Linked DNA regions of Homo sapiens: all the other regions are linked to region 2. The links come from fine-mapping of genetic effects on gene expression. A gene starts in region 2. Each other region holds a variant in brackets. All regions are shown on one strand. Distances are between the middles of the regions.

The links. PIP is the estimated chance that this variant, and not a neighbour inherited with it, causes the effect. A credible set is the group of variants that fine-mapping cannot tell apart.
Region 1: its variant is the best candidate, but not a certain one, in a credible set for the expression of CDK20 in transverse colon (CEDAR, PIP 0.58).
Region 3: its variant is the best candidate, but not a certain one, in a credible set for the expression of CDK20 in pancreas (GTEx, PIP 0.82).

Annotation. Positions count from the first base shown.
Region 1 is chr9:88,007,968-88,018,626 of GRCh38, forward strand. It overlaps the pseudogene RPS10P3. Among named protein-coding and RNA genes, the nearest start is that of CDK20, 39 kb to the left of the region's middle. The variant A/G (reference allele first, on the strand shown) is at 5,112.
Region 2 is chr9:87,972,207-87,982,865 of GRCh38, forward strand. It overlaps CDK20 (cyclin dependent kinase 20), which reads right to left and starts at 2,327. Exons shown (of 8, transcript NM_001039803.3): 1 at 2,166-2,327; 2 at 1,716-1,829. The coding sequence starts at 2,240. LOC105376131 (a long non-coding RNA gene) reads left to right here and starts at 2,429. Exons shown (of 3, transcript XR_930088.2): 1 at 2,429-2,656.
Region 3 is chr9:88,026,545-88,037,203 of GRCh38, forward strand. No RefSeq gene overlaps it. Among named protein-coding and RNA genes, the nearest start is that of LINC03026, 46 kb to the right of the region's middle. RefSeq lists an enhancer at 1-20. The variant C/T (reference allele first, on the strand shown) is at 6,145.

The sequences.
Region 1 (10,659 bases), 36 kb after region 2:
TCCTCTGTGACATGAGACAAGAAATACACCTAAAGTCATCACCCCTAATCTGGAGTTTCGCTTTCCACAATTTCAGTTACAGGAGGTCAACCTTGGTCCAAAAATATTAAATGGAAAATTCCAGAAATAAACAGTAAGTTTTAAATTGCATTCTGTTCTGAGTGGTGGGATGAAATCTTGCCCTGTCCAGCTCTGTCCCACCCAGTACATGAATCGCCCCTTTGTCCAGCATATCCACCCTGTCTATGCTACCTTCCCATTAGTCACTTATTAGCTGTCTCAGTTATCAGATCAGGAAGAAAAGTAAGTACAGGATAAGATATTTTGAGAGACAGAGAGAGAGACCACATTTACATAACTTTTATTGCAGTATATTGTTATAATTGTTCTATTTTATTATTGTTGTTATTAATCTCTTACAGTGCCTAATTTATAAATTGAACTTTATCATAAGGCCGAGCGTGGTGGCTCATGCCTGTAATCCCAGCACTTTGGGAGGCCAAGGTGGCCAGATCACCTGAGCTCAGGAGTTCAAGACCAGCCTGGCCAACATGGTAAAACCCTGTCTCTACTAAAAATACGAAAATTAGCCAAGTGTGGTGGCACGCACCTGTAATCCCAGCTACTCAGGAGGCTGAGGCAGGAGAATTGCTTGAACCTGGAAGGCAGAGGTTGCAGTAGCCAAGATCGCACTACTGCACTCCAGCCTGGGTGACAGAGCAAGACTCTGTCTCAAAAAAAATACATAAATAAATAAACTTTATCATAGTTATGTATGCATAGAAAAAAACCCAGAGTATAATATATATAGGGTTTGTTACTATCTGAGGTTTCAGACATCCACTGGGGGGTCTTGGGGGTCTTGGAATGTGTCCCCCATGGATAAGGAGGGGGGAAACTACTGTAGTTCTCTGTATAAGTGCCTGACCAAGCATTTTACAAATAATGGTATAATTTGCTGTCAGTGCATCACATTGTGTCTGTCAAAATGTTATTTTCTTGAACTTTAAGTAACCAAAACAATCTCAAAAACAATAAGGTTGGAGGTCTCATACATCTGGATTTGAAAACTTACTGCAAAGCTACGGTAATCAAAACAGTGTGGTACTGGCATAGAAACAGCCCCATAGACTAATGGAATAGAACAGAAAGCCCAGAAATAAACCTTTATATATATGGTCAAATGATTTTTATTTTTTTTTGGAGATGGAGTCTTGCTCTGTCACCCAAGCAGGAGTGCAGTGGTATGATCTTGGCCCACTGCAACTTCCATCTCCCAGGTTTAAGTGATTCTCCTGCCTCAGCCTCCCGAGTAGCCGAAACTACAAGCACACACCACCACACCCAGCTAATTGCTGTATTTTTAGTAAAGACAGGGTGTCACCATGTTAACCAGGCTGGTCTCAAACTCCTGACCTCAGGCAATCCACCCGCCTTGGCCTCCCAAAGTGCTGGGATTACAGACGTGAGCCACCCCGCCAGGCTTTCAAATGATTTTTTTTAACAATGATACCAAGACCATTTACAGGGAAAGAATAGTTTTTTCAAAAAATAGTGTTGAAAGGCTGGATATGGTGACTCATACCTGTAATCCCAGCACTTTGGGAGGCTGAGGCAGGAGGATTGCTTGAGCCCAGGAGGTCAAGATCAGCCTGGACAATATAGTGAGGCCTCATCTCTGAAAAAATAAAAATAATAAATGTTGTAGGGAGATTGAGTCTCCACATGCAACAGAATGAAGCTGGACCCTTACCCAGTGCCATATGCAAAAATTAACTCAAAATGGATCAAAGACCTAACTATAAAAGCTAAAACTGTAAGAATCTTAGGCTGGGCACAGTGGCTCACGCCTGTGGTCCCAGCATTTTGGGAGGCCGAGGCGGGCAGATCACGAGGTCAGGAGATCAAGACCACCCTGGCTAACACGGTGAAACCTCATCTCTAATAAAAATACAAAAAAATTAGCTGGGTGTGGTGGCAGGCACCTGTAGTCCCAGCTACTCGGGAGGCTGAGGCAGGAGAATGGTATGAACACAGGAGGCGGAGCTTGCAGTGAGCCAGGATTGTGCCACTGCACTCCAGCCTGGGTAACAGAGTGAGACTCCGTCTCGAAAAAAAAAAAAAAAACTATAAGAATCTTAAAAGAAGTCTTCCTTATATCAGATTTGACAATGATTTCTTGAATGTGATACCAAAAGCATGGGCAACATAAGAAAAAATAGATAAATTGAAGTCAATAAAAATGGAAAACTTTTTCCCTGGTGGTCTAGTGGTTAGAAAACAAACAAACAAACAAGTTTAAAACTTTGTGCATTAGAGGACACAATCAGTTCAGGCGCAGTGGCTCACACCTGTAATCCCAGCACTTTGGGAAGCCAAGGCAGGAGGATCACTTGAGGTCAGGAGTTCAAGACTAGCCTGGGCAACATGGTGAAACTTCATCTCTACTAAAGATACAAAAATTAGCCAGGCATGGTGGCACACAACTGTAATCCCAGCTACTTGGGAGGCTGAGGTGGGAGAATTGCTTGAACCCAGGAGGTGGAGGTTGCAGTGAGCTAAGATCATGCCATTGCTCTCCAGCCTGGGCAACAGAGCAAGGCTCCATCCCTTACCACCAAAAATATTATTTTCTTTTATGTGATAGTGATACCAATTCCTAAAATTAATATAGGGCCACAATTATGCAGAGTTCTTGGTTGGATTTATGGATGATAAAAGTCTTTTCCCATTATGACTGACCTTTCCACTCTTTTTTTTTTTTTTTTGAGATGGAGTGTCACTCTGTCGCCCAGGCTGGAGTGCAGTGGCGCAATCTCAGCTCACTACAAGCTCTGCCTCCTGGGTTCATGCCATTTTCCTGCCTCAGCCTCCCGAGTAGCTGGGACTACAGGCGCCCACCACCACGCCTGGCTAATTGTTTGTATTTTTAGTAGATACGAGGTTTCACCATCTTGGCCAGGCTGGTCTTGAACTCCTGACCTTGTGATCCACCTGCCTCGGCCTCCCAAAATGCCGGGATTACAGGCATGAGCCACCGAGCCTGGCCCCACCTTTTCACTCTTAAATCCAGATTTTTAATGAACAGAAGTTCTTGGCCTTAATAGAGTCAAATGTTTTTAATGGAGTCATTGTTTCCCTTTGTGGCTAGTGCTTTTTATGCTGTTTGAGAGCACTGTGCTTATCTGAGGTTTTATGAAAAGGCAGTACTGAGAGTTGGCAGGTGGATCTGCTTGCCCAAGGCTGGGAGCGAGAATCAGTGTAGAGCCAGTTGGGCTTCAAGGCCTTTGCCCAAGACTTTCTAAAAGCTGCTTTAAGGTTTTACTATGTCAGGGCTACAAGTTCTGCCTTTGAAACTTTCCACATTCTCTAGCAACTTAAATTCTTTTTTTTTTTTTTTGAGACGGAGTTTTGCTCTTGTTGCCCAGTCCTTTCTTTCTGACAGATTTGATGGCAAACTCATTCCTAATTGCCTGGCTTCTTGGTAGATGAAACCCCCTTCTCTTCCCAGGGCACTAGGTCTCTCTTTGGGAATCTGCCCCTGTAGAGAGCTGCCCTGTTCACTGCAGCTCCAAAATACTGGAGAAAAACTTAAATGTCTACCAGCAGAGGGAGGAAGAGTTAAAATAGAGAAAATCCAGGAAACTGAATTCTGTGCACCCACTAAATACTGCCAATGTGCTGGCAGGAAAGGATATCCAAGAGATGAGAAAACATATTTTGCAGTCTAATAGATTTAGCATGCTTACCTTTTTGTAAAATAAATAATATACTGTGTGTATTAATATAAGAAAATTCTGGGCCAGGTGCAGTGGCTCACATCTGTAATCCCAGCACTTTGGGAGGTCGAGGCAGGCAGATAACCTGAGGTCAGGAGTTTGAGACCAGCCCGGACAACATGTCTCTACTAAACATACAAAAATTAGAGGGGCATGGTGGTGGGTGCCTGTAATCCCAGCTACTTGGGAGACTGAGGCAGGAGAATCACTTGAACCCGGGAGGTGGAGGTTGCAGTGAGCTGAGACCATGCCATTGCACTCCAACCTGGGCAACAAGAGCAAAACGCCATCTCAAAAAAAAGAAAAAGAAAAAGAAAAAAAGAAAATTCTGGGAGGACAATATGAATAGTTACCTATTGGAGGGGAGGGGTTTTCTCTTGGAAGGGCAGGTACTGAGGGCTGTGGTGAGCCGAGGGCAGATGCTTCACTTTAATTTTATATCTTTTTAAAAAATTGTGGGATTATTGTTGGTTTTAACCTTATTTGTATGCTTTATCTTCCTCTGTAATTTTCCTAGTGAAACTAATAAAACAAGGCCAAGGCAGGAGGATCTCTTGAGGCCAGGAGCTCGAGAGGAGGCTGGGCAACATAGTGCAACCCGCCTTCTCTACAAAAAAATAAACAATAATACATAATAAAACAGGGCAGGGTGTGGTAGCTCATGCCTGTAATCCCAGCACTTTGGGAGGCTGAGGCAAGTGGATCTCTTAAATCTAGGAGTTCGAGACCAGCCTGGGCAACATGGTGAAACCCTGTCTGTACTAAAAATACAAAAATTAGCTGGGTGTGGTGGCGCAGGCCTATAGTCCCAGCTACTCAGGCGGCTGAGGTGGGAAGATTGCTTGAGCTTCGGAGGCAGATGTTGCAGTGAGCTGAGATCATGCCACTGTACTCCAGCCTTGGCCACAGAGTGAGACCCCATCTCAAAAACAAACAAAAACAAAAACAAACCTCACACACTAAATAAAACAAAGTTAAGACAGGAAGGAGAGAGATTTTGTCTCAGATGTCTGCATCCTTACCTTCAGACCCAGTCTCTGACTTTGTTTTCTAGTGAGATAAAAATAAATAGGCCCCCACATGTCAGAGTTGAATGATTTCTTAGAACTCGTGATCCAGTGACCTCCTTTTTCAGGTGATGCAGGGGTGCCGGCCCTCACCTGGAACCTGCAGTTCAGGTTAAAATGTTGGCTTTGCCACTTGTGGGTAAGGTCCCCTTTAGGGAAGTGATTTTCCATCTCCTAGCCTTCACCCCTGCAAACCCAGCTCCATGGTAATTGTAACAGTTTTCTGACTGCTAACAACCTACAGAAAAGAAGCTGGAGAAAAGTC[A/G]CAACAAACAGGAGACAAGTGCAGTCCTCCTGTCTGGAGGTGTTAAAATATTCGGGCGGTGCTCAAAGGGCACCAGTGACATTTGTTTGCATCTCAATGGCATTTAAGGATAATCTATGCTGAGCAGCTTATTTCATCAAGCAGGAAGTGAGACCCAGAAAGCAAAGTCTTTTGCCAAAGAGTTCCTTAGGCAGGGACAGGTTCCAGGACAAAGGAGAGAGTGAAAGCTGCAGGAAGCTTGTCCTTCTCTCCACTAAGGAGACAATTCACAATCCCCAAAATGTGTCTCCTTTCTGGGAACTCTTTATCTCTGCACCTTGAAAGCTATCATCTCTCCAGGTGTTCTGGGCTCTGGTAGCCTTTTCTAGATAGGTGGGGAAGAGGTAGAGAACTTAGGCCAAGACTTGTCAAGAGTTTCCAAGGGCAATTTGGGGAAAAGATGAGAGGAGGACATGAACATCTGTTCCCAGCTGGGCTCATTGACTCAATCCTGTAATCTTAGCACTTTGGGAAGCCAAGGCGGGAGGTTTGCCTTGCAGTCAGGAGTTCGAGACCAGCCTGGGCAACATAGCGAGACCCCCACCCTCCCTGCCACCATCTCTACTAAAAAAGAAAAAAGAAAATAGACATCTGTCCCTAGGTGGAGGAGGGTTGGTGTTTCTCTTAGGAATACCTGTTTCCATGGAAACATAGGGATGACACCAGTCCCCAGGCCTGAGTTGGCAGCACAGCTCTACCGCACAACCATGCGGGCTGAGAGCAGTTTCAGTGTCCACCCTCCTGGAGCCGTGCTGCTCAGGAGAAATATAATGTCAGCCACATATGTAACATTACGTTTACACTAATAACATTCAACTAAAAAGAACCAGGTGAAATTGATTTTAATAATACATTTCATTTTACCCAATATGTCAAAAATGTTATTTTCACATGTAATGCATATAAAAATCACTGAGATAGGTCACATTCTGTTTTCCATGGTAAATCTCCAAAATCTGGTGTGTGTCCTGTCGTCTACTCACAGCACAACTCAATTCGGCCTCGCCATGTTCAGGTGCACAATCATTGTGTGTGGACCAGGGCTGCTGTCCTGGATAGCACAGGACAAGTGAACACGAACACCCTCCCTGCCCTTCTCCTCCCACACCTGCTAGTCTGTAAGAGGAGGAAGCAGCCCTTCTCGGGTTCAGTGTGGTAGTTCATGGTGGCTGAGACGGGCCAGAATCCCAGGGCTGCTCTGAGAGAGGAGCTCAGTCTGTGCTCTGGCCTTCTCTCTCAAAGAAATGGAGATAGGCCCAGCACTTTGGGAGGCTGAGGCAGGAGGATTGCTTGAGCCCAGGAGTTCAAAATCAGCCTGGGGAGCATAGTGAGACTTTGTCTCTAGAAAACAACAACAACAACAAAAATTATCCAAGTATGGTAGCACATGCCTGCAGTCGAGGCTGCTCAGAAGGCTGAGATGAAAGGATTGCTTGAGCCCCAGAGGTTGAGACTACAGTAAGCTGTGATCACACCACTGTACTCCAGCCTGGGTGACAGAGAAGACCCTGTCTCAAAAAAAAAAAGAAAAGAAAAGAAAAGAAAGAAAAGGGATAAAAGGATTAGGGGAGATTGTGAGGACTAATTAATACACATGAGGACTTAGGGTAGGACTTGGCCTAAAGGAAAGAGCAAAATACACCAACACTTGTGCTCCACATGGTCTTGTTTTGTCCCGCCAAGCACACAGCTAGAGTTGCCTCAAAATGCTGGCAGGGAAATTGCCAGAAGGGAGTGCCCCATACCATCCCAAGATGGGGTTGGTTGGGATTCCAAAGAAAGAAGCACTAGCCAGGCGCAGTGGCTCATGCCTGTAATCCCAGCACTTTGGGAGGCCGAGGCGGGTGGATCACAAGGTCAGGAGTTCGAGACCAGCCTGGCCAACATGGTGAAACCCCATCTCTACTAAAAATAGAAAAATTAGCCGGGCATGGTGGCGCACGCCTGTAGTCCCAGCTACTTGGGAGGCTGAGACAGGAGAATAGTTTGAACCTGGGAGGCGGAGGTTGCAGTGAGCTGAGATCGTGCCATTGCACTCCAGCCTGGGGACAAGAGTGAAACTAAGTCTTAAAAAAAAAAAAAAAAAAAAAAAAAAAAAAAAAGCACTAACACCAGTAACACCAGGGTGATGAATCCAGAGCATTTATTAGGGAACCTACATACAGAGGCTGCAGCAACCCACTCGAGGGACAGCGAGAGACAAGCATCTTCTCCCTAGGTATGTCTGCAGTAGGGGGACCAGGGTTTATAGATGTCAGGGTTGAAGGAATTTAGCTGAGGGTCAGGGCCAGTTTCTTTCTGTGTTTTTGGCAAACAACCTAGGTATCTTTATCAATGCTGAGGCCCAGCTTTGGGTCAAGCCTGCAGGGAAAAACCTGTAGCTGACTGCATCACAGAGTGGTTAAGGCACTGTGTGATTTTTGATCAAGAATGTTAGGGGAGCCAGAGATCACCTCCAGCCCCACTTTTAGCTCTCAGTGGTCTCTTCAACTGGATCTAGAAACCAAATGATACCAGGTAGATTTTTTTTTAAAGCAAATCATTTTTATTTTTATTTTTAAAAACTTATTTATTTATTCATGTATTTAGAGACGGGGTTTCACTGTTTCCTGGGCTGGAGAGCAGTGGTGCAATCACAGCTCACTGCAGCTTTGACTTTCTGGGCTCAAGTGATCCTCCCACTTCAACTTCCTGAATAGCTGGGACCACAGGCACCTACCATGCCAATCTAATTCTTCTTTTTTTAGACGAAGTCTCACTCTGTCATCCAGGCTGGAGTACAGTGGTGCAATTTTGGCTTACTGCATTCTCTGCCTCCCGGGTTCAAGCGATTCTCCTGCCTCAGCCTCCTGAGTAGCTGGGATTACAGGCGAGCTCCACCACGCCTGGCTAATTTTTGTATTTTTAGTAGAGACAGGGTTTCACCACGTTGGTCAGGTTGGTCTCGAACTCCTAACTTTGTGATCCGCCTGCCTCAGCCTCCCAAAGTGCTGAGATTACAGATGTGAGCCACCATGCCCAACCTCTGTAGTGAGTCTCAACAGAGCAGAGTTCATTGCACAGCATTGGATGACCCAGCCCCTACCCCCGATTTTACTTGAGAATGAATTTGGGGCCGGGTGTGGTGGCTCAAACCTGTAATCCCCTTTCCCAGCCCCAGCCCGGCCCTTGCAGCTGCAGAGATGTTGATGCCTAAGAAGAACCGGATTGCCATTTATGAACTCCTTTTTAAGGAGGGAGTCATGGTGGCCAAGAAGGATGTCCACATGCCTAAGCACCCGGAGCTGGCAGACAAGAATGTGCCCAACCTTCATGTCATGAAGGCCATGCAGTTTCTCAAGTCCCGAGGCTATGTGAAGGAACAGTTTGCCTGGAGACATTTCTACTGGTATCTTACCAATGAGGGTATCCAGTATCTCCGTGATTACCTTCATCTGCCCCCAGAGATTGTGCCTGCCACCCTATGCCGTAGCCGTCCAGAGACTGGCAGGCCTCGGCCTAAAGGTCTGGAGATTGAGCGACCTACGAGACTCGCAAGAGGGGAAGCTGACAGAGATACCCACAGATGAGTGCTGTGCCACCTGGTGCCGGCAAGAAAGCTGAGGCTGGGGCTGGGTCAGCAACCGAATTCCAGTTTAGAGGCGGATTTGGTCATGGACGTGGTCAGCCACCTCAGTAAAATTGGAGAGGATTCTTTTGCATTGAATAAACTTACAGCCAAAAATCCTTAAAACAAACAAACAAACAAACAAACCTGTAATCCCAGCACTTTGGGAGGCCGAGGCGGGCAGATCACGAGGTCAGGAGTTCGAGACCAGCCTGACCAACATGGTGAAATCCCCATCTCTACTAAAAATACAAAAATTAGCTGGGCATGCTGGCATGCGCCTGTAATCCCAGCTACTCAGGAGGCTGAGGCAGAAGCATCCCTTGAACCCGGGAGGCAGAGGTTGCAGTGAGCCGAGATTGCACCACTGCACTCCAGCCTGGGTGACGGAGCGAGACTCCATCTCAAAAAAATAAATAAATAAATAAAAGAATGACTTTAGGAGAGTTTGGCCAATACCACTAATAAGAATAGTTGTTGCTATCAGTTGAACAAAAACGAAAGAATCTTGCCAGTCCAACATTTAATTTCCTTCCCTCTTTCCCAACACTCCTCCTCCTCCCATTCTCTCTTCTGGAAATCCTGTCATAACATTGGAATCCATGAACTTAATCTCTGATTTTAACATTTTCATTTTCATCTCTGTACTTTTGCTCCACCTTCTGAGAGATTTCCCCAACTTGCTCTTCCAACTATTCTACTAAGTTTTTAATTACTCACCTTTTGTTTTTCCTCTGTTCTGAATGCTCTTTTTAACAGCAACCTCTTTGTTTTTCATAGTTATATATTCATATGCATACTCTAAATAGGCATAGATAGATGTGTAATATCATCAAAGAAATTCTAAATATGTGAACATGATAATACATTTCCATAGTTTTGTTCCTCCAACTTGCTTCTGTCTCTGCTTGTTTTGGCCCATATCTTCCATTTTAGAGGCTTTGTCTGGTAAATCTTGGTTGTCTGCTCAGGGTTTTTTCTTTTTTGGGGGATAGGGTCTCACTCTGTTGGTCAGTCTGGAGTGCAATGGTGCAACCAAAGCTTATTGTAGCCTCCATGGTTTCTTGGGCTTAAGTGATCCTCCTCCCTCAGCCTCCCAAGTAGCTGGGAGTACAGGCATTTGCCACCACTCCTGGCTAGTGTTATGAGTTTTTTTGTAGAGACAGGGTCTGGCTATGTTGCCCAGGCTGGGCTCCAACACCTAGGCTCAAGCAATCTGCCTGCCTCGGCCTCTCAAAGTGCTGAGATTACAGGCGTGAACCATTGCACCCAGCCTGGCTTGCAGTTAGAAATATGGAACTGAACAACTTATTGGAAGTCTTGTAAGTAGGTGTGGCTTGTTTACCTTGCAATTCACCGTGAGGTCTGTGTGTATGCTATTAGGGAACCCAATACGTGTATCAATATTACTTGCTTTTTCCTCATGTACTGTTCAGATTCTCCAGAAAGTAGTCTTCCAATTTCCTGTTTGAAGGGTTCTTATGTGGTTTTAGCATTCTGTGAGCCAAGAGGGCTGGGGCTGTCAGCAATCAGTTTGCATCAATGTAATTGCGTCCCTTTTTGAGGAATGTGCCCTTAAGCTCAACTGTTGTGGTCAACTCTCAGCCCAAAGGTCCTCTCAAGAAAATAGACCTCCAGCGTTCTGCTGAATGTTACCCAGCCCTGTGGGGTGGGGAATGGGATCGAGGGATCCAACTGCTTCTTAAACATCTTGATTCTCAGCTGAACTCGCTTCTGGCCTAGAATTATCTTTCTTAGGCTAGGTGTGGTGTCTCACACCTGTAATTCCAGCACTTTGGGAGGCCAAGGTGTGCAGATTACCTAATGTCAGGAGTTCGAGACCAGTCTGGCCAACATGGCAAAACCCCCGTCTCTACTAAAAATACGAAAATTAGCCAGGTG
Region 2 (10,659 bases):
AAAAAGAAAAAAAATCAACAGAACTAGAAGAGGATAGTGTGATTCTGTGAGTGGAGAAAAGGATACTTCTTTATTTAGGTGGGGTGGGGCTAGATGAGGACCCAGTTTGTGGGGATCTGGGATAAAGCTCTGAGCAGGAAGAAAAGCAAGTGCAAGGCCCTAACGCCAGCACAGAAGGAGGCTAGAGGGATGTGAGTACATGAGATTGTTTAAGGGAAGGATGTGTCTGCCTTGTTCTGTGCTCCTGGACCCTAGATAGGTGCTGGTCACTGGAGAGATGCCTAAGAAGTTGTGTTGAATGAGAGAAAAGGGAGAGGCCAGCTGGAGGTGGGCACATGGTGATAGTGCTCTAAGTGTGAAGAGAAGCCACCAGGGCTTTTTACGCAGGGGAGCCGATGACTTAACTTACACTTTTGACAAAGCCCTCCGGACTGTGGCTATGGAGAGCAGTGGGGAGGCTGCCACTGTCATTCTGATGAGTGGTGATGATGACTTGGGCAAGGAGCAAATCTAGAGTATGTTTTAAAGTTAGAACCTTCAGAATTGCTGACCAACTGGATGTAGGGACCATATCACCAGCTTCCTTATGGATCTCTCCACCTATCCCACACATGGCTGTCTGGAAGCCCTTTTATCTTCCTCAAAAAATCAAAATGGCCTGATTGCTGTTTTCGGATTTTTCAGGTAGTACACAACCATTTAACAGATCAAAACACATGCACACATTCAGGTAAGACATAAAATCCAACAGAAAAAGAACAAAAGAAAAATCCTACAGTCAATCTTAGAGTGTATTCTACCAGACTTTACAACAGATATGGCACACACAAATACACATTCACATATATAATATTTCCAAACAAAACCCAGATGACACAAAATTTTATAACATGCTTTTGTCATCCAATATATCATGCATATCTCCAGATCACAGAGACCCAACCCTGTTAACTCTCCAGGGAGTCAAATACATTCCCTATTTCGACATGGGTGAGAGAGAGCACCAAAAGAGTAATGACACTAGGGGTGAAAGATGCCCCTCTTCGTGTTCCAGCAGCCCCTCCCGGTACCCTATCACAGCACGAACCACACTAGGTGGGCCCTGTTGCCTCTGTCTCTTGTTAGCACACTTAAGTCCTCAGGAGCTGGGCTGGAGCTGGTTTCTCTGTGTCACCAGTGCCCAACACAGGGTAGAGCCTATGGGAGGTCCCAAGGGAAGAATGGACTCTCAATCAAACCTGGGCCAAACCCTCTACTGACTAACGGAGGGCCCAAGAGCTGGTGACATAACCTCCTCCTCTCACCTGAGAAACAGAGATCTGGAAACCTGCCTTGTACAGTAGTAAAGAGGTCTCAAAATGACAATGTATATAATGCCTGCAGAACACATCGGGAGCTCAATAGGTGCTAGTTACATTATAAATCACTACATGTTTTGAGAAAAAAAGTCGGTGAATGAATGAATACATTAAGAAATAAGTAGGCAAATGAGAGTGAATGTGTGAGAAATGAAAGAAATAGGTAAATAAAGGTGAACAAGTGGACAAAAAAGGGCAAAAGGGGGTAAGGAGGCAGATGAATGAGCAGTGTGTGTGAGTGACAGCGGGAGGAAATCCCTGAAAGCTGGTGAAGGCGTAGCTGGGAAAATGAAGGCACAAAGAAGTGGGAACGAGCGACTGAGGGTGAGAATACCATGCCCCCCCTCCCCTACTCACATACTGATTGTCCTCCATCTCCTGCAGAGCCTTAATCTCCCGCAGGGCCTGGTTAGGGAAGCCGTCCTCCAACCGCCTTAGGGCCACCTTCTTGAGGGCAACTATCTCGCCAGTCTGCAGGATAGAAGGCAGACACTGCCAGCCCACCCTCGGCTGGGAAAGAGAGATGAAGGTGGGTGAGGGGAAGGTGGTTGAGAGAGAGACACGCGCCCCCGGCTCGGCCAGAGGCCCTCCTCGGGGGTCTAGGACTAGCCTGGGACCCAGCCGCTGGGGTAGGGGACCAAGCCAGCTGTGCGGAGGGAAGCGCAACGGCCCAAAGTAGGTTTAGAATATGAGTAGGTTTTAAAAACTGTACTGGATGTAAAAAGGGAACCGAAACAGTTTAGAGCGTTAGCCGGAGGGTGGCGGGGGCACACCCCCGCCAGGCTGCCGGCCGCGGTCCAGCCTCACCTCCACGTGCTTGGCCTTGAAGACGATGCCGTGGGCGCCCTCCCCGATGCGGCCCAGGATGCAGTACTGGTCCATCCCGCTGCAGTCGTGGGCCTGTGCCCCTGTGCCCCTGAACTTCCAAACTCCACTTCTCCTCCACCCCACGCTGATCTGAGCTCGCACGCTGTTGCCTAGCAACAGCGCGGCAGCTGACCACTGGGGCGGTTCCTGTAGGCGACGTCACCAGGAGAACGGAAGCTGCGTCGAGTCAGGGGTGACAGCTCCGGGCCCCACTGCGCCTTTTCCTAGCCCTCCGCTGTCACGCAGCAGCAAGCTTAATCCCGCATAAAAAACGCATGCGCCGAGAGCGTGCCCGCAGCAGGGCCCACGGAACGATGACAGCAGGCACCTCCTATCTGCCCCCGCCCCCGGCGTCACGTGACTAGCTGCGCTGGTGCACGCAGCCGGGAGGGGCGGGCTCCTTCCCCTGGCAAGCCGGAAGCTCCGCACCTGTAAGTAGAGGTTCAGGCTTCGACCACGCGCAGGTGCTGTTTTCTAGCTCCGAAAGCCAGGCACTATTGATGCAGACAGACAGGTCCCGGGCTGCGTTGTGGAAAGAGGGTCTGTGGGTCCTCTTGTCTTAAAATGTCAGTTGGCTACGTGTACCCACAGATTTTTAAAAGGGCATACTCTGAGGGCCGGGCACGGTGGCTCACGCCTGTAATCCCAGCGCTTTGGGAGGCTGAGGCGGGCGGATCATCAGGTCAGGAGTTCGAGACCAGCCTGACCAACATGGTGAAACCCCGTCTCTATTGAAAATACAAAAAAAATTAGCCGGGCGTGGTGGCGTGCTCCTGTAATCCCAGCTACTCAGGAGGCTGAGGCAGAAGAATCGCTTGAACCCGGGAGGCAGAGGTTACAGTGAGCCGAGATTGCGCCACCGTACTCCAGCCTGGGTGACAGAGCGAGACTCTGTCTCAAAAACTAAAACTAAAAATAAAATAAAAGGGCATACTCTGACCCAGACAGGACAGAGTAGGCCTTAAACTTCTGAAAGGATGCTCAACTTCACATACAATAAACAAATGCAAACTAAAGTTACAGTTTTTCACATATTGGATGGCTAAAGATCTCAGGTCTAATAGTTCATTGACCAAGCTACGGGAAAACAAGCACTTTCATACATTGCTGGTGGCAGTATAATTTGACGATGTTGATCAAATCACAAATGCACAGACCCTCAGACTCAGCAAAGCCACTTCTAGCAATTTCCCCAATAGACACCTTTTACACATGTGAAATGACATGTACAAAGTTATTCCATTGCAACGTTGTTTCAACGGCAAACTATTGGAAACAACACAGATGTCCATCATTGTGGTGCCTCCTTCAAATGAGGTATTAAATCTTTTTATGTACAGCAATGGGAAGATTTCTAAAATAGGTTGTTAAATGAAAAAGGCAAGATGCAGGACAGAATGCATAGAGTACCACTGGCTGTGTAAACAAAAGGAGAAAAGAATATAAATAATGCTTGTACATCCATTACAAGATATCTGGAAAGATACACAAGATTTCCTGAGTGTGGTTACCTGGTGGAAGAGGGACTGGGAGGACAGGGGGACAGAATAGGAGGCAGACTTTTCACTGGGTCTCTTTACATTATTTGAGTTTTGAATATAATTTATTAATTTTCCAAAAAAGCAAATATTTTCTAGCTTAGAAATTTCACTTCTGGGTTAATAATTGCAGAAGAATGACTTGATGTCCATACAAAGTATTCCTCCTGTTTGATGATAGCAGAGATCTGAAAACAACCCAAATACCCAGATGGAAAAATGGCTAAGTTAAGTTAAGGGAGTGCCATAGAATGGAATAGTTTTTAGCATTAAAACTGGCGAAGATAGGCTGGGCATGGTGGCTCAGGCCTGTAATCCCAGCACTTTGGGAGGCCGAGTCCTACGGATCACTTGAGATCAGGAGTTTGAGACCAGCCTGGCCAACATGGCGAAACTCCCTGCCTGTACGAAAAATACAAAAATTAGCCGGGCATGGTGGCACTCGGCCTGTAGTCCCAGCTACTCAGGAGGCCGACGCGGGAGAATCGTTTGAATGGAGGAGGCGGAGGTTGCAGTGAGCCGAGATTGTGCCAAGGCACTCCACCCTGGGCGACAGAGCAAAACTTGGTCTCAAAAAAAACAAACAAAAAAAAAAAGATACAGTAGGGAAAGGATGGTCTTCACAAATAGTGCTGGGTCATTTGAGAAGTCATAAGGGGAAAATAATGTATATTGACCCCAGTCTCACACCATTCACAAAATTGATTCCAGATGGACTGCAATCTAAATATAAAAGGTAAATAATGAAGCTTTTAGAAGAAAATTATATCTTAATGGCTTTGGATTAATTCAAGATCCTTAGGTTACAGAATACACTAAAAGAAAAACAAAAATGAGAAATTGGCCTTCATCAATGCTAAGAATATCTATTCATCAAAAGATACCATTAGAGACCAGGCACAGTGGCTCACACCTGTAATCCCAACGCTTTAGGAGGCCAACATGGGAGAATCAGTTGAGGTCAGGAGTTCGTGACCAGCCCGGCCAACATGGTGAAACCCTGTCTCTGCTAAAAATACAAAAATTAGCCAGGCATGGTGGCATGCACCTGTCATCCCAGCTACTCAGGAGGCTGAGGCAGGAGAGTTGTTTGAATCCAGGAGGTGGAGGTTGCCGTGAACCAAGATCACGCCACTGCACTCAAGCCTGGGTGACAGAGTGAGACTCCATCTCAAATTAAAAAAAAAAAAAAAAAGATACCATTAGAGAGTGAACAAGAAAGCCACAGAAAGGCAAAAGAGAACTGTAATACATATATCTGACAAAGGACTCACATGTAGAATTTATAGAGAACTTTTATTATAACACTGAAGAAGAAGCAGACAATCTTACAAAAAAAAAATTAGAAAAACCTGGAATAGACACTTCGCAAAAGGTGATTCCTGAACAGCCAATAAATTTTGCAATATGTGTGTTTAACTTCCCTGACTAGAAGGGAATTTCATATTAAAACCACAACAGAGTGTTATTGTAATCACTAGAATAGTTTAAATGAAAAAGATAGATAATACCAAATGCTAGCAAAGAGCAACTTGAACTCTCATACACTGCTGCTAAGAGTGCAAGTTCATACAACCCCTTGGAAAAACTGGCACTTTTTTCCACAGGCACGTACCACCACGCCTGTAGAGGCAGGGTCTCTCTATGTTGCCCAGGCTGATCCTGGGCTTGAGGGATCCTCCCACTTTGGCCTCCCAGAGTACTGGACTTACAGGCCTGAGCCACCACACACGGCTCCACTTTGTCAAGTTTTACTAGCTAGTTTGAGGTTCAAGAAAAGTTTCAAAGCAAATGCCTTTTTATTGGACTAGTGACTTTTTTCTTTTTTTTCTTTTTTTTTTTTTTTTTGCCAAATCAATAACTGCATAATGACTTTTACATGACTAAATTTTACTTATCTTCCCACACATAAGACTGTCGTACAATTATCAAATGCTTTATGAAGCACCATTTTGTGCATAACATCACAGCACAAAGACTAGTATGATTATGGTAATGGGAGTTATTTCACTATTCTCTTCAAGAAATGGTAAAAGGAGACGATAATCTCAATTGATGCAGAAAAAGCATTTGACAAAATTCAACACTCTTTAATGAAGAAAGCACTCAACAAACTATAAATACAAGAAAACCACCTCAACATAATACAGGCCATGCAGGAAAAGCCCACAGTTAACATTACATTCAATGGTGAAAGATTGAAAGCTTTCCCTCTAAGATCAAGAACAAGTCAAGGATCCTCACTTTTGCCGCTTTTATTTTATATAATACTGGAAGTCCTAGCCAAAGCAATTAGAAAAATAAATAAATAAATACATAAATAGGCCGGGCACAGCGGCTCATGCCTGTAATCCCAGCACTTTGGGAGGCTGAGGCAGGTGGATTACCTGAGGTCAGGAGTTCAAGACCAGCCTGGCCAACATGGCGAAACCCCATTTCTACTGAAAATACAAAAATTAGCCGGGCATGGTGGCACGCACCTGTAGTCCCAGCTACTTGGGAGGCTGAGGCAAGAGAATCGCTTGAACCCGGGAGGCGGAGGTTGCAGTGAGCCGAGATCGCACCACTGCACTCCAGCCTGGGTGACAGAGTGAGACTCCGTCTAATAAATAAATAAATGAATGTAGGTAAATAAATAAATAGCATCCAAATTGGAAAGAAAAAACTATCTCTGTCTAGAGACAACATGATAATATATGTAGAAAATCCTAAATATGCCACAAAAAACTGTTAAAACTAATAAACAAGATAAACAGAGTAGCAAGATTCAAAATCAATATGCAAAAATCAATAGTTTCTATATACTAACAATGAGCACTCTGAAACAGAAATTAAGAAAATAATTCCATTTACAATAATATCAAAAAGAATAAAATACTTAGGAGTAAATAAGGAAGCAAAAGACTCATAGGTTGAAAACTAAAAAATGTTGCTGAAAGAAAGACACAAATAAATAGACATCTTGTGTTCATGGACTGAAGGACTTAATATTTTGAATATGTCAATACTACTGAAAACAATTTAAAGGTTTAATGGAATCTCCATGGGATTTCTTTTTTGCAGAATTAGAAAAAAAAATTATTCAGAAACCAATGTGGATTCTCAAGAGGCCCTAAATAGCCAAAACCAATCTTAAAAAAGGAGGAGGTCTTACTCGTCCAGATTTTAAAGCTTACCACAAGCTATAGTAATCAAAAAAGTGTGGTACTGACATAAAGGCAGACAGCCCAATGGAATAGAATGGAGAGCCTAGAAGTAAATCTTCACATACCTGATCAAATGATTTTTAAAAAAATTATGAAGACCATTCAATGGGGAAAGGACAGTCTCTTTAACTAATGATGGTGAGAAAGCTAGAGCTCTACATGCAAGAAAATGAAAAAATTGACCCCTTATATCATATGGAAAAACTAACTCAAAATGGATTAAAGACCCAAATTTACACCAGGTGCACTGGCTTACACCTGTAATCTCAGCACTTTGGGAGGCTGAGGCAGGATCACTTGAGGCCAAGGCCCGCGGATCACTTGAGGTCAGGAGTTCGAGACCAGCCTGGCCAACATGGTGAAACCCTGTCTCTACTGAAAATACAAAAAAATGAGCTGGGCATTGGGGCATATGCCTGTAATCCCAGCTACTCAGGAGGCTGAGGCAGGAGAATCACTTGAAACCAGGAGGTGGAGGTTGCAGTGAGCTGAGGTCACGCCACTGAACTCCAGCGTGGGCAACAGAGGGAGGCTCTGTTTCAAAAAAAAAAAAAAAAAAGAAAACCTAAATGAAAGAGCTAAAACTATAAAACTCTTAGAGGAGAACATAAGGACATAAGGGAAAAGCTTCATAATATTGGGTTTGACAGTGACTTCTTTTTTTTTTTTTAAGACACAGTCTCACTCTGTTGCCAGGCTGGAGTACAATGGCATGATCTCGGCTCACTGCAACCTCTGCCTCCCAGATTCAAGCAATTCTCCTGTATCAGCCTCCCAAGTACCTGGGACTACAGGCGCATGCCACCACGCCCAACTAATTTTTGTATTTTTAGTAGAGACAGGGTTTCACCATGTTGGCCAGGATGGTCTCGATCTCTTGACCTCATGATTTGCCTGCCTCGGCCTCCCAACGTGCTGGGATTACAGGCATGAGCCACCGCACCTGGCCTGACAGTGACTTCTTCATGTAACACTAAAAACATAGGCAACAAATGTAATAATAGCCAGGGTAATTAGGCAAGAGAAAGAAAGGGTATCAAAATTGGAAAGCAGAAAGTCAAATTGTCCCTATTTGCAGATGGCATGATCTTATATATGGAAAAACCTAAAGGTTCTACCAAAAAACTCTTAGAACTGATACATTTAGTTAAGTTTTAGGATACAAAATCAACATATAAGTATCAGTAGTGTTCCTATATTTGAACAATAAACTAGCTGAAAAAGAAAGGCAATCACATTTACAATAGCTACAAAAAATAAAAAATAATAAAATACCTAGGTATAAATCCAACCAGGGAGGTGAAAGACCTCCACAAGGAAACTAAAAAACAGTGATAAAAGAAATGGAAGAGTATACAAATAAATGGAAAGACATCCCATGCTCATGGAGTACAAGAATTAATATTGTTAAAATGACCATACTGTGCCGGGCATGGTGGCTCACACCTGTAATCCCAGCACTTTGGGAGGCCGAAGCAGGTGGATCATCTGAGGTCAGGAGTTTGAGACCAGCCTGGCCAACATGCGAAACCCTGTCTCTACTAAAAATACAGAAAATAGCCGGGCACGGTGGCAGGCAGCTCTAATCCCAGCTACTCGGGAGGCTGAGGCAGGAGAATAGCTTGAACCAGGGAGGCAGAGGTTGCAGTGAGCCGAGATTGCACCATTGCACTCCAGCCTGGGTGACAGAGTGAGACTCTGTCTCAAAAAAAAAAAAAAAAAAAAAAAAAAAAATGACCATACTACCCAAAGCAATCTACAGATTCAATGCAATCCCTATCAAAATGCCAATGACATTCTTCACAGAAATAGAAAAAAAGATTTAAAAACAATGTGGAGACACAAAAGATTCTGAATAGCCAAAGCAATCCTATGCAAAAAGAACGAAACTGAAGGCATCACACTACCTGACTTCAAAATCTACTACAAAGTTGTAGTAACACAAACTGCATAGTACTGACCTTAAAACAGACACGTGGGCCAATGGAACAGAATAGAGAACCCAGAAATTAATCCACATATATATAGCAAACTGATTGTTGACAAAGGCACCAAGAACACTTACTGAGGAAAAGACAATGTCTTCAACAAATAGTGCTGGGAAAATTGGATATCCATATGCAGAAAAATGAAATTAGACCTCCACCTCTCACCTTATACAAAAATCAACCCAAAATGGATCAAAGACCTAAAAGTAACACAAAAAACTATAAAACTACTAGTAGAAAACATAGGGGAAGTGCTTCAGGATATTGGTCTGGGAAAAGACTTTATGAGTAAGACCTCAAAAACACAGCCACAAAGGCAAAAATAAACACATGGGATTATATCAAACTAAAAAGCTTATGCACAGCAAAAGAAATAACACAGTGAACAGACAACCTGCAGAATCTGAGAAAATATCTGCAAGCCATTCATCCAACAGGGGATTAATATCCAGAATACACAAGGAACTCAAACATCTCAACAGTCAAAACAAAACAAAAACGACAATTCAGTTTAAGAATGGGCAAATGATCTAGATAAGACATTTCTCAAAAGACGACATACAAATGGCCAAGAAACATATGAAAAAGTACTCAATGATGCTAATTGTCAGAAATGCAAATCAAAACTACAATAAGGTATAATCTCATCCCAGTTAGGATGGCTAAAATAACAAATCCTGGCAAGGATGCGGAGAAAAGAAAACTCTAATATGCTGTTGATGAAAACGTAAATTAGTACAGCCACTGTGGAGAACAGTATGGACATTCATCACAAAACTGCAACTAGAACTACCATAAGATCCAGTGCTGTCACTACTGGATATTTATCCAAAGGAAAGGAAATCAGTATGTTGAGGAGACATCTTCATCCCCATGTTTATTGCAGCACAGCACTATTCATAACAGCCAAGATATGGAATCAACCCAGGTGTCCAACAATAGATGAATGAATTTTTTAATGTGGTATATATATATAATGGAATATTATTCAGCCTCAGAGAGAATGAAATCCTGTCATTCACTGCAACATAGATGGAACTGGAGGATAGTATGTTAAGTGAAATAAACCAGGAACAGAAAGTGAAACATCACATATTCTCACATGTGGAAGCCAAGAAAAGTTAATCTCAGAGAAGTAAAAAGTAGAACAGAACATACTTGTAGTGGAGAAGGGGGGGTACATAGTGAGAGATTTGTTAAAGGATACAAAATTACAACTAGTTAGATAAAAGGAATAAGTTCTAGTGTTCTGTAGCACTGTGGTATGACTATATATTAGTTAACAATAATATATAGTTTCAAATAAGTAGAAGGAGGATATTGAATGTTTCCAACACAAATAAATGATAAATATTTGAGATAATGGATATGGTAATTACCCTATCTGATCTTTATACATTATGTATTGGACACTGTACCTGTCAAAACATCATTATGTACCCCATACATACATACAATTACTATATGTCAATCAAAATTTTAAAATAATAATAGACACATTTGATTTTATCAAAATTAAAAGCTTCTGTGCATCAAAGGACACAACAGAATAAAAAAGCAATATACGGAAAGGGAGATTCATGAAGCTGAGTGAACACCAAACAGAATGAATCTAAAGAAAACATGACCCAACCATAAGCCATCTACAACGAACTCATTCCAAATATAACAATATAAATAGTTTGAAAACAAGTAGTGACAA
Region 3 (10,659 bases), 54 kb after region 2:
CAACCTCCGCCTCCTGGATTCAAGCGATTCTTCTGCCTCAGCCTCCTGAGTAGCTGGGATTACAGGCATGCGCAACCACGCCTGGCCAATTTTGTATTTTTAGTAGAGACAGGGTTTCTCCATGTTGGTCAGGCTGGTCTCGAACTCTCGACCTCGGGCGATCCTCCTGCCTCGGCCTCTCAAAGTGCTGGGATTACAGGTGTGAGCCGCTGCACCCAAGCCTTTTCTTATGGGACCCAGTCAGATTGGATTAGGGCCCACACATCCATATGACATCATTTTTAATTGATTACCTCTGTAAAGGCCCCTCCTCCAAATATAGTCACCTTCTGAGGTTCTTGGGGTTAGCATTTCAACATATGACATTTGAGAGGCACCATGCAGCCATCACACGGAATAATCTGTTAGTTTCAGTACTCAGGGTCTGCTCTGTTAGGACACACACTCCCAAAGAATTGCTTTTAGACCTTGGTCCTAAATGATTTTTCCTTTAAAAAGCTGGTATTCTTATTTTTATTTATTTATTTTTTTGAGACGGAGTCTCGCTCTATTGCCCAGGCCGGAGTGCAGTGGCACAGTCTCGGCTCAGTGCAACCTCTGCCTCCCAGGTTCAACAGATTCTCCTGCCTCAGCCTCTCGAGTAGCTGGGACTACAGGTGCCCACCACCACGCCTGGCTCATTTGTTTTTTTTTTTTGTATTTTGTTGTAGAGATGGGGTTTCACTGTGTTAGCCAGGATGGTCTCGATCTCCTGACCTCATGGTCCACCTGCCTCGGCCTCCCAAAGTGCTGGGATTACAGGTGTGAGCCACCGCGCCTGGGTCCTAGCTTGCTCTTTTATGTGGGCAGCAATGTGCCTGGAACCCTCCTCACCTCTTATTGACATCCTTGTCCTTGCAGGAGGACTCTAACCTTAAATTGTTATCACCCAACCTTGTCTGTGACATCCAGATTCCAAAAGTAATAAAATTTTAAATGAAATAAACTGGTAATGAATAAAGCAGTCATGAACTGTCTTTATCAAATAAAGGACCTTTTGGTACCAAAGTGATTCATACATACAAAAAAAGTCTAGGAATATAAGAGTCTTACTGCCAAGCACAGTGGCTCATGCCTGTAATTCCAGCACTTTGGGAGGCCAAAGCGGGTGGATCACCTGACGGTGGGAGTTTGAGACCAGTCTCTACTAAAAATACAAAATTAGCCGGTGTGGTGGCACATGCCTTGTAATCCCAGCTACTCAGGAGGCTGAGGCAGGAGAATCACTTGAACCCAGGAGGAGGAGGTTGCAGTGAGCCGAGATCTTGCCATTGCACTCCAGCCTGGGCAACAAGAGCGAAACTCCATCTCAAAAAAAAAAAAAAGGTCTTACTTTTGCATTCTTGTTCTTACATTTTGTCTGTCAAAGTCAATAGAGGATCCATTTACTTGTGAAATTAGTTTCCTAACCATATGCCATCCTTCCTCCTAACTCCGTAATTTTCTTTTTCTTTTTTTTTTTTGAGATGGAGTCTCACTCAGCTGCCCAGGCTGGAGTGCGGTGGCGTGATCTCAGCTCGCCGCAACCAACATCTCCCAGGTTCAAGAGATTCTCCCGTCTCAGCCTCTCAAGTAGCTGGGAATACAGGCACCCGCCATCATGCCCGGCTAATTTTTGTATTTTAGTAGAGTCAGGGTTTCACCATGTTGACCAGGCTGGTCTTGAACTCCTTACCTCAGGTGATCCACCCACCTCGGCCTCCCAAAGTGCTGGGATTACAGGCATGAACCACAGCGCTCGGCCCTAACACCGTAATTTTTGCATGGTACAATGTAAGCTATTTCTGCTTAAAACTAAAATATGCTTGTAATTGACAGCAAGATAAGCATAAGGTTTTGCATGACTCAGCCAGGTTAATCAAAGAGGATGGTTGCTATTTTGGGAGAAAGGAAGTTAATTAAATATGTAACTAATTTTATATTAGAGAAAACTAATATAATTAAACTGCAGTTTTGAGTGGTATGAGTCAGTATGATGATTAAGAGTGGGAGTCATGAAAAAATACAGTATTTATTAACTATCGGGGGATTGACATATGAAGTCTTCAAAAAGTTTGGGATGGGCTTGGTTATGTGTAATCGTCATGAATTTTTTGTTCAAGTATTTAAAATGTTCAGTGAAAGCTATATAACTACATTACAAACTTTATTTGTGATTTCTAGCAATCTTCCAAGTGAGGTGGAGAAATTAAAGATCTAGAATGCACCTCTGTTGGCCGGAAGCAGTGGCTCTTGCCTGGAATCCCAGCACTTTGGGAGGCCGAGGCAGGCAGATCACGAGATCAAGAGATCGGGACCATCCCGGCCAACATGGTGAAACACTGTCTCTACTAAAAATAAAAAATTAGCTGGGCACGGTGGCGGGTGCCTGTAATCCCAGCTACTCGGGAGGCTGAGGCAAGAGAATCGCTTGAACCCAGGAGGCGGAGGTTGCAGTGAGCCGAGATAGCACCACTGCACTCCAGCCTGGCAACAGAGTGAGACTCCATCTGAAAAAAAAAAAAAAAAAGAGAACCTCTGTGTGGAGGAAAACAATTCTATTAGAGGAAATAAAAGGCACAGGGAGGGCACAGGGAGGAATGTCATATTATTTTGGTACAAGCAGATTTCCAAATACTTAATTAGCAAAAAGTGTTTATCAGAAATCTTGTTTTCTTCTGTATGTTTCATCACACTTTAAATTAGCAAAGAATATTGCCTTTCATCAACATCAAGATGAGGAGAGATAAATTCTGCGTGTTGCAAGGAAGAAGAAAAATAATGAGTAAGGAAGGAGCTCATTGTAAGGATGATTCTTGGCAGAAGCAAGTGGTAGCTCACAGAGGGTGGTGGTAGTGAGAAAATGGTTCCTGTCCTCCACCCCAGGGCTCAACCTTCAGATTTGTGCTTATGTCTGGTCTCCAGCCAGGGGCAGAGAAGAACTGAAGGATAAAACAGGAAAACCTATTGAGAGGGGCAACTGAGATCCTCAATCATAGGTTACTGTAAGGTGAAAATTGCCTGCTCTTTCTTTCTTTCGTTTTTTTCTTTGAGCAGAGTTGCTCTGTCACCCAGGCTGGAGTGCAGTGGCACCATCTCGGCTCACTGCAACCTCTGCCTCCCAGATTCCAGCTATTCTCCTGCCTCAGCCTACTGAGTAGCTGAGACTACAGGTGCCCGCCACCACGCCCAGCTAATTTTTGTATTTTTAATAGAGATGGGGTTTCACCATGTTGGCCAGGCTGGTCTTGAACTCCTGACCTCATGATCTGCCCACCTCGGCCTCCCAAAGTGCTGGGATTACAGGCATGAGCCACCATACCCAGCCTGCCTGCTCTTTCAAATGGAATCCTACAGTTGTCACATCTGGGGTACGTGCACTATTGTCTTTATTGTAAAGGAAAACTGGCATTTACATGGTGTCTCAGTTTGCTTGGGCTATTGTAACAAAGTACAGCAGGTCCTAGAATAAGGTCATTTTGTTTTTATTTATTTTGAGACAGGGTCTTGCTCTGTTGCCCAGACTGAAGTGCAGTGGCACAATCATGGCTCAAGTGATCTTCCTCCGTCTCAGCCTCCCAAGCAGCTGGGACAACAGGCCCCTGCCACTATTTCTGGCTAATTTTTAAAAAATATTTTTTGTAGAGACTGGAGTCTTCCTGTGTTGCCCAGTCTGGTCTCAAACTCCTGTGCTGAAGCGATCCTACTGCCTCAGCCTCCCAAAGTGCTAGGATTATATCCATGAGCCACCTCCCCTGGCCTCAACAGGTCTTTATTATAAGGTCGATGAGAAAAGAATAATCCTCACCTGGGGCCACTACCTGTGTTGGAGTCTGTCTGCATGTTCTCCCCATGTCTGTGTGGGTTTTTTCTGGGTGCTCTCGTTTCCTCCTTGATCCCATGATTGTGCCCATTAGGTGAACTGATGTGTCTACGTGGTCCCAAGGTGAGTGAGGGTGGGCATGTGTGTGAGTGCGCCCTGCAAAGGGAGAAGCGTGCTGTAGGAACTTAACTCTTGTTTATATCAATTAGCCTATTGATTAGAAAATTGATTTTGTTATACATCATTTCACTTAAAGTTAGTTTCCAAGAACTTACTGACAATGTTAAGTGAGGGCTTTCTGTATCACAGACTGGACAGCTTAAACAACAGAAATTTGTTTTCCCACAATTCTGGAGCCCGGAAGTCTGAGATCAAGGCATCTGCGGTGTTGTTCTTTCCTGAGTCCTCTCTCCTTAGCTTTGCAGATGGGCGTCCTTGCCCTGTGTCCTCATCTCCTCTTCTGATAAGGAACACCAGTCATATTGGATTAGGTTCCACCTTAAGGACCTCAGTTAACCTTAGTTACCTCTTTATTTTTTATTTTAATTAATTAATTAATTTATGTATTTATTTTGAGACAGAGTCTCACTGTGTCACCCAGGCTGGAGTGTAGTGGCTCACTGCAACCTCTCCCTCCCGGGTTTAAGCAATTCTCCTGCCTCAGCCTCCTAAGTAGCTGGGACTACAGGCATGCGCCACCACACCCAGATAATTTTTGTAGTTTTAGTACAGGCAGGGTTTCTCCATGTTGGCCAGGCTGGTTTCGAACTCCTGACCTCAGGTGATCTGCCCGCCTTGGCCTCCCAAAGTGTTGCAATTACAGGTGGGAGCCACCACGCCTGGCCTGTTATCTCTTTAAAGACCCTGCCTCCAAATACAGTCACATTCTGAGACGCTGGTGGTTGGGACTTCAACACACGAATTTCGGGTGTCCAGAGGACAGAGTATTATCTGCCATAGCAAACTGACACACACGGCTTCCAGCCAGGAGCATCTTGGAAAAGCTTTTGTCAGAAAGTGAGTCCAGGACTTGGCAACTATACCATGTGTGTCCCCTCTGAAGGGGACAAAGCCCAACCAGTTATTAACCACTCATGTGGGGTGCCTTTGGTTAATTAGAGTAAAGGGAGTCCAGTGGTAGGTGTTCTACTTCCAAGGAACAAGACACTGATAGATTTACAATGTTTAGTAACAGCTAAATCACAGATGTTGATGGGACCCTGATGTCTTTGGTTTTAAAATGGTAAATATGTTTCCTGAAGTATGAAAAACCTCCTATGTAGCAAATGCTGAGAAATACCATGGTGACAGTATTTTTGTGAGCCTGTCACCACAGACAGAGCCAGTGCAATAATGCATCAGTCCCCTTCACCAGCCTCATGCTCTTCTTTATTCTAAAGAAGTGAGCAGGGAGAGGGCCACGGTCCAGTATGGGAAAATGAGCCCTTTCAATGACAAAATTTAAATGTAATGAGCATTAAATGAGCATATTAATTCACAGGAGCAGTTGGTGCTTCTGCCTGAAAGTGGAGAAACGCATGTTTCCAGGGAAGCAGAGACACAGTGGCAGGGTGACACAGCCAGTGCTCACACAGCATCCCTCCGGTGGGCAATCCGCAGTGCAAGGCCACCACACAGCAATGCCACTCCACTGGCAGGGGCTTTGTAGCAGGGATTCTCAAAGGGCATCCTCACACAGCAGCATCGCCGTCAGCTGGAAAAGTATCAGAAATGCAGATTCTTGGCCAGGTGCCATGGACCATGCTTATAATCCCAACATTTTGGGAGGCTGAGGCGGGAGGATCACTTGAGCCCAGGAGATCGAGGCTGCAGTGAGCCGTGATTGTGCCACTGCACTCCAACCTGGGCAACGGAGCTGAGATCCTGTCTCAAAAAATGCAGATTCTTGGGCCCCATCCCAGATCCACTGAATCAAGAACTCTGGGTGTGGGCACAGCAATCAGTATTTGAACCTCTGTGTAGGTAGAGCAAAAATGCAAGACACACAGTTACATTTCATTTTAGATAAGTGACATCATTTTTTAATATGAGTATGTCTCAATTATTGCATGGGACATGTTTAATACTAAAATGATTTGTTGTTTAACTGAAATTCACCTTTAGCTGGGGTACTGTTTTGTTTGTTTGTTTGTTTGTTTTTTAGACAGAGTCTCTCTCTTTCGCCTAGGCTGAAGTGCAGTGGCGTGATCTTGGCTCACTGCAACCTCCACCTCCCAGGTTCAAGTGATTCTCCTGCCTCAGCCTCCCGAATAGCGGGGATTACAGGCACATGCCACCACGTC[C/T]GGCTAATTTTTGTATTTTTAGTAGAGACAGGGTTTCACTATCTTGGCCAGGCTAGTCTTGAACTCCTGACCTCGTGATCCACCCACCTCGGCCTCCCAGAGTGCTGGGATTACAGGCATGAGTCACCGCGCCCGGCCTGGGGTTCTGTATTGTATCTGGCAGCTCTGCCTCCAGGGGATTCTGATTCATGCTGAAATTTGGGAACCACCGGCATGGAGGCTTTGCCTAGGTCCAAAGCCCTGTTCTGACCATTTCAATGATGAAGAAAGTGTCTGATCCTCACATTCATTTCCCTGTTACCCTCTTTACCTCCCTGTTTCCCTGTTACCCTCTTACCTCCATCCTTCTTGTCTGATTTGCTCTGTTCACTCATTTACATTTCCTGTGCCTTTTCACATTCGTGACTTCTTAGTTCTGTCTGTGATTTTATAAAGATAACTCCCAAATAAAAATTGCATGGATCTACTGTTTATTGGTTGTAGCTAACTCAGCCAGAGGTTAGACTGTGCATATTTTGACACAGCAACTTGCCCAGGTTCATAAGTGCATTTATAAGACCCTTCTGCATCAGGTTTCCTGCCTGCATATGTACATATTAAGTAGCTCTAGTTACTGAGGACTATGAACTCAAAGGAAAGGAAAACTCCATGCTTAAAAATGGTTGAAGAACATGCTCTTGCATTGATTCTGGGTTGGACTCAGCTACATGGAACTGTTGATGTTTAAAGAACCTTAAATGTGGGAGGTAGAGGAAATGGTGTATTGTATTGTTTATGACAGGTAATAACGAACCACCAAGGTTAATTGGATGATTGACTGAGGTATTCGTTGGCCAAGGGCCTAAGAGCATTATGTAGTATTTTGCCAGCATGTTATACAGAGAAATGGAGATTAAGTATTCTCTATTCTTGGCTGGATATGGTGGCTCACGCCTATAATCCCAGCACTTTGGGAGGCTGAAGCAGGTAGATTGAGCTGAGGAGTTTGAGACCAGCTTGGTCAACATGGTGAAATGTCGTCTCTACAAAAAATACAAAAATTAGCCAGGCATGGTGGTGCACTTCTGTAGTCCCAGCTACTCAGGAGGCTAAGGTGGGAGGATGGCTTGAACCCAGGAGGTTGAGGCTGCAGTGAGCCGAGATCACACCACTGCACTTCAGCTGGGCGACAGAGTGAGACCCTGTCTCAAAAAAAAAAAATTTTTTTTCAAGTATTCTCTATTCTTGTTAATGGCACATTTAATTACAAACAGAAAACCTCAGCCCCTAATGTCTGATGAAGGCTTTTTATTTTTACTTTTTATTTTTATAAGCTCTGTTAGACTTGAGAAAGCTTTTTAAATTTTCTTTTTTTTAAGCAGAATCTGATCAAATATTCAATATAACAGGAAACAGTGCATTTTATGCTTAAGGAGAAGAAAATGTAGCACATCATGATTTAGGTTTTTAATACATTTCTATTTTGCAGATTGGGATTGAGACAGTTATGTTTGGTTTGGACAGTGACCCCAGTGTGATGATTGTCTGTGTGGCCTTAATGTTGATCAGGGTTGTTCTCATGAAAGATCACTTCAAGATCCATACAACCAAGATTTCAGGACTGTTGGCAAAATAGGGGAAAGTAAGTCACTATGGTGACGCAGACACTCAAAAACATCTGCATCGGGAAACTACTTCATTTGGGTTTATAACGACCCCCTTTTTTTTTTTTTGAAATGGAGTTTTGCTCTTTCACCCAGGCTGGAGTGCAGTGGTGCGATCTCAGCTCACTGTAACTTCCTCCTCCCAGGTTCAAGCAATTCTCCTGCCTCAGCCTCCCAAGTTTATAGGCTCCGGCTAATTTTTGTATATATATATATATTTTTTGAGACGGAGTCTCGCTCTGTCACCCAGGCTGGAGTGCAGTGGCGCCATCTTGGCTCACTGCAAGCTCTGTCTCCCAGGTTCACGCCATTCTCCTGCCTCAGCCTCCTGAGTAGCTGGGACTACAGGCACCCGCCACCATGCCCAGCTAAATTTTTGTATTTTTAGTAGAGACATGGTTTCACCATGTTAGCCAGGATGGTCTCGATTTCCTGACCTTGTGATCTGCCCGCCTAGGCCTCCCAAAGTGCTGGGATTACAGACATGAGCCACATCGCCCGGCTGCCTAATTTTTGTATTTTTAGTAGAGACAGGGTTTCACCATGTCGGCCAGACTGGTCTCGAACTCCTGACTTCAGGTGATCCACCCACCTTGGCCTCTGAAAGTGCTGGGATTATAGGCGTGAGCCACCACAGCAGGCTATAATGACCACTTTTTACATAGTAGTCAATATAATGCATTTGATGCATATTGATTTTTATCTTGTAGAAACAGCAGTTAGACAAAAACATGGACAAATCCAATATAGTTGCAGAATAGAATGCAAGTGGGCAAGTCTCAGTGCTGTCAAAATTGGAGTGCTGCTGGCCAGAGCTAGGAGGGGCCGCTGCGCTGGCGACCGAGCAGCAGGTGCTGATGCTCTCACATAGTCCAAGGGCAAGTTCAGTTGACAAAACAAGAAATGGAGTTTTGAGATTATTATTTGAAAGTGTAAAGATAAGCAATAAAAGAATCAAAAGGAACTGAGGATTTATAGAATAGTAATAAAAGGGAAACTATAGGATTTTAAAGAAGAATCATAGAGTTAACCACCAGAAAAGTATTAACATGTGTTCCCAGCTTTGACAGAAAACTTTTTCTTTCTTTTTTTTTTTTTTTTGAGTTGGAGTTTCGCTCTTGTTGCCCAGGCTGGAGGGCAATGGCGTGATCTCGGCTCACTGCAACCTCTGCCTCCCAGGTTCAAGCGATTCCCCTGCCTCAGCCTCCCGAGTAGCTGGGATTACAGGCATGCGCCACGCCCAGCCAACTTTATATTTTTAGTAGAGATGGGATTTCTCCATGTTGGTCAGTCTGGTCTCGAACTTCCGACCTCAGGTGATCTGCCCACCTTGGCCTCCCAAAGTGTTGAGATTACAGGTGTGAGCCACTGTGCCCGGCCTAGGAAAGCTTTTCTTTACCAATAGATCTGAGTGGTGGGGAGGTGGAGAGGATGGCAATTTAATTGACAATAGAAAGAATAACAGCAGAAAAGTTCGCTTTCACTGTATTTAGGAGCACTCCAAAAGGAGTGGCTCCAGGAGCCGCCAGGGGTGAGAGTTCATACATCAGCATCGTAAAAATAGGGTGGTTAGGACTTTGGAGGGAAGTATGGAAGGTTTTCAGAGGGCTTGCTTACACAGGGTTTACTCTTGGTGTTAACAGGCACCTTGAGAGGGGATGTATGGCAGCTTCATGATCAGAAATCTCTGCCTTTAATCATATATGGGAAGCTCAAAAAAGGCCTCTAGGCTGAGTGCAGTGGCTCACCCCTGTAATCCCAGCACTTTGGGAGGCCGAGGCGGGCGGATCACTTGAGGTCAGGAGTTTGAGACCAATCTGGCCAACATGGTGAAACCCTGTCTCTACTAAAAATACAAAAATTAGCAAGGTGTGGTGGTGTGCACCTGTAATCCCAGCTACTTGGGAGGCTGAGGCAGGAGAATCGCTTGAATCCAGGAGGTGGAGGTTGCAGTGAGCTGAGATTGCACCACTGCACGCCAGCCTGGGTGATAGAGAGAGACTCCGTCTCGGAAAAAAACAAACAAACAAAAAAAGTATCTAGCTGTGTCTGCTGTATCTCAGATGTCTTCAGTCTAAAGCAGGGGTCTCCAACTCCCGGACCATGGACTGGAGCTCGTCTGTGGCCTATTAGGAACGGGGCCACACAGCAGGAGGTGAATGGTGGGTGGGTGAGCCAGCATTACCTGTCAGATCAGCAGCGGCACTAGATTCTCATAGGAGCACAAACCCTATCGTGAACTGCACATGTGAGGGATCTAGGTTGCTTGCTCCTTATGAGAATGTAACTAATGCCTGATGATCTGAGGTGGAGCAGTTTCATCCTGAAACCATCCCCCAACCCAACCCCGGGTTAAAAATTGTCTTCCACAAACCCGGTCCCTGGCGCCAAAAAGGTTGGGGACTGCTGGTCTAAAGCAATCTTTCTTGCCTCCTGGTGGGTTGTGGGTCCTTTCACTGGGAAGCTGCATTCCAGGTGGGGATGAGCAGGGCAAAGGAAATTTTCATCATAAACTTTTCTATGCAAAAGTTTACAATGTGCAATTTGATTTCCTTCCATGCCCTTAAATTACATCAATCAAAGAGAAAAGGGGAGAAGAGCCCCAGCCCAGCTTGATCCAGTGAGCTATGTTTGGAGAGGAAGCTCTGGGCAGGGGCTGGGGAAGGTGGTGTTGGATCCTGTTGGGGGACAGGCCAGGGAATCTGTGAGACAGATGATGGATGTGATGGGATGTGCCAGCAGAGGCCGGCGGGGCCAGCGCATCCCTCCTACCTTCCTCCCTTCTGTGGACACTTGGGGGAAGTCGTAGGTGACTAGTGAGTTAAAAAATGAATTACCAATGAGTAATTAGTTACTGATGAGGTTTTAAGGT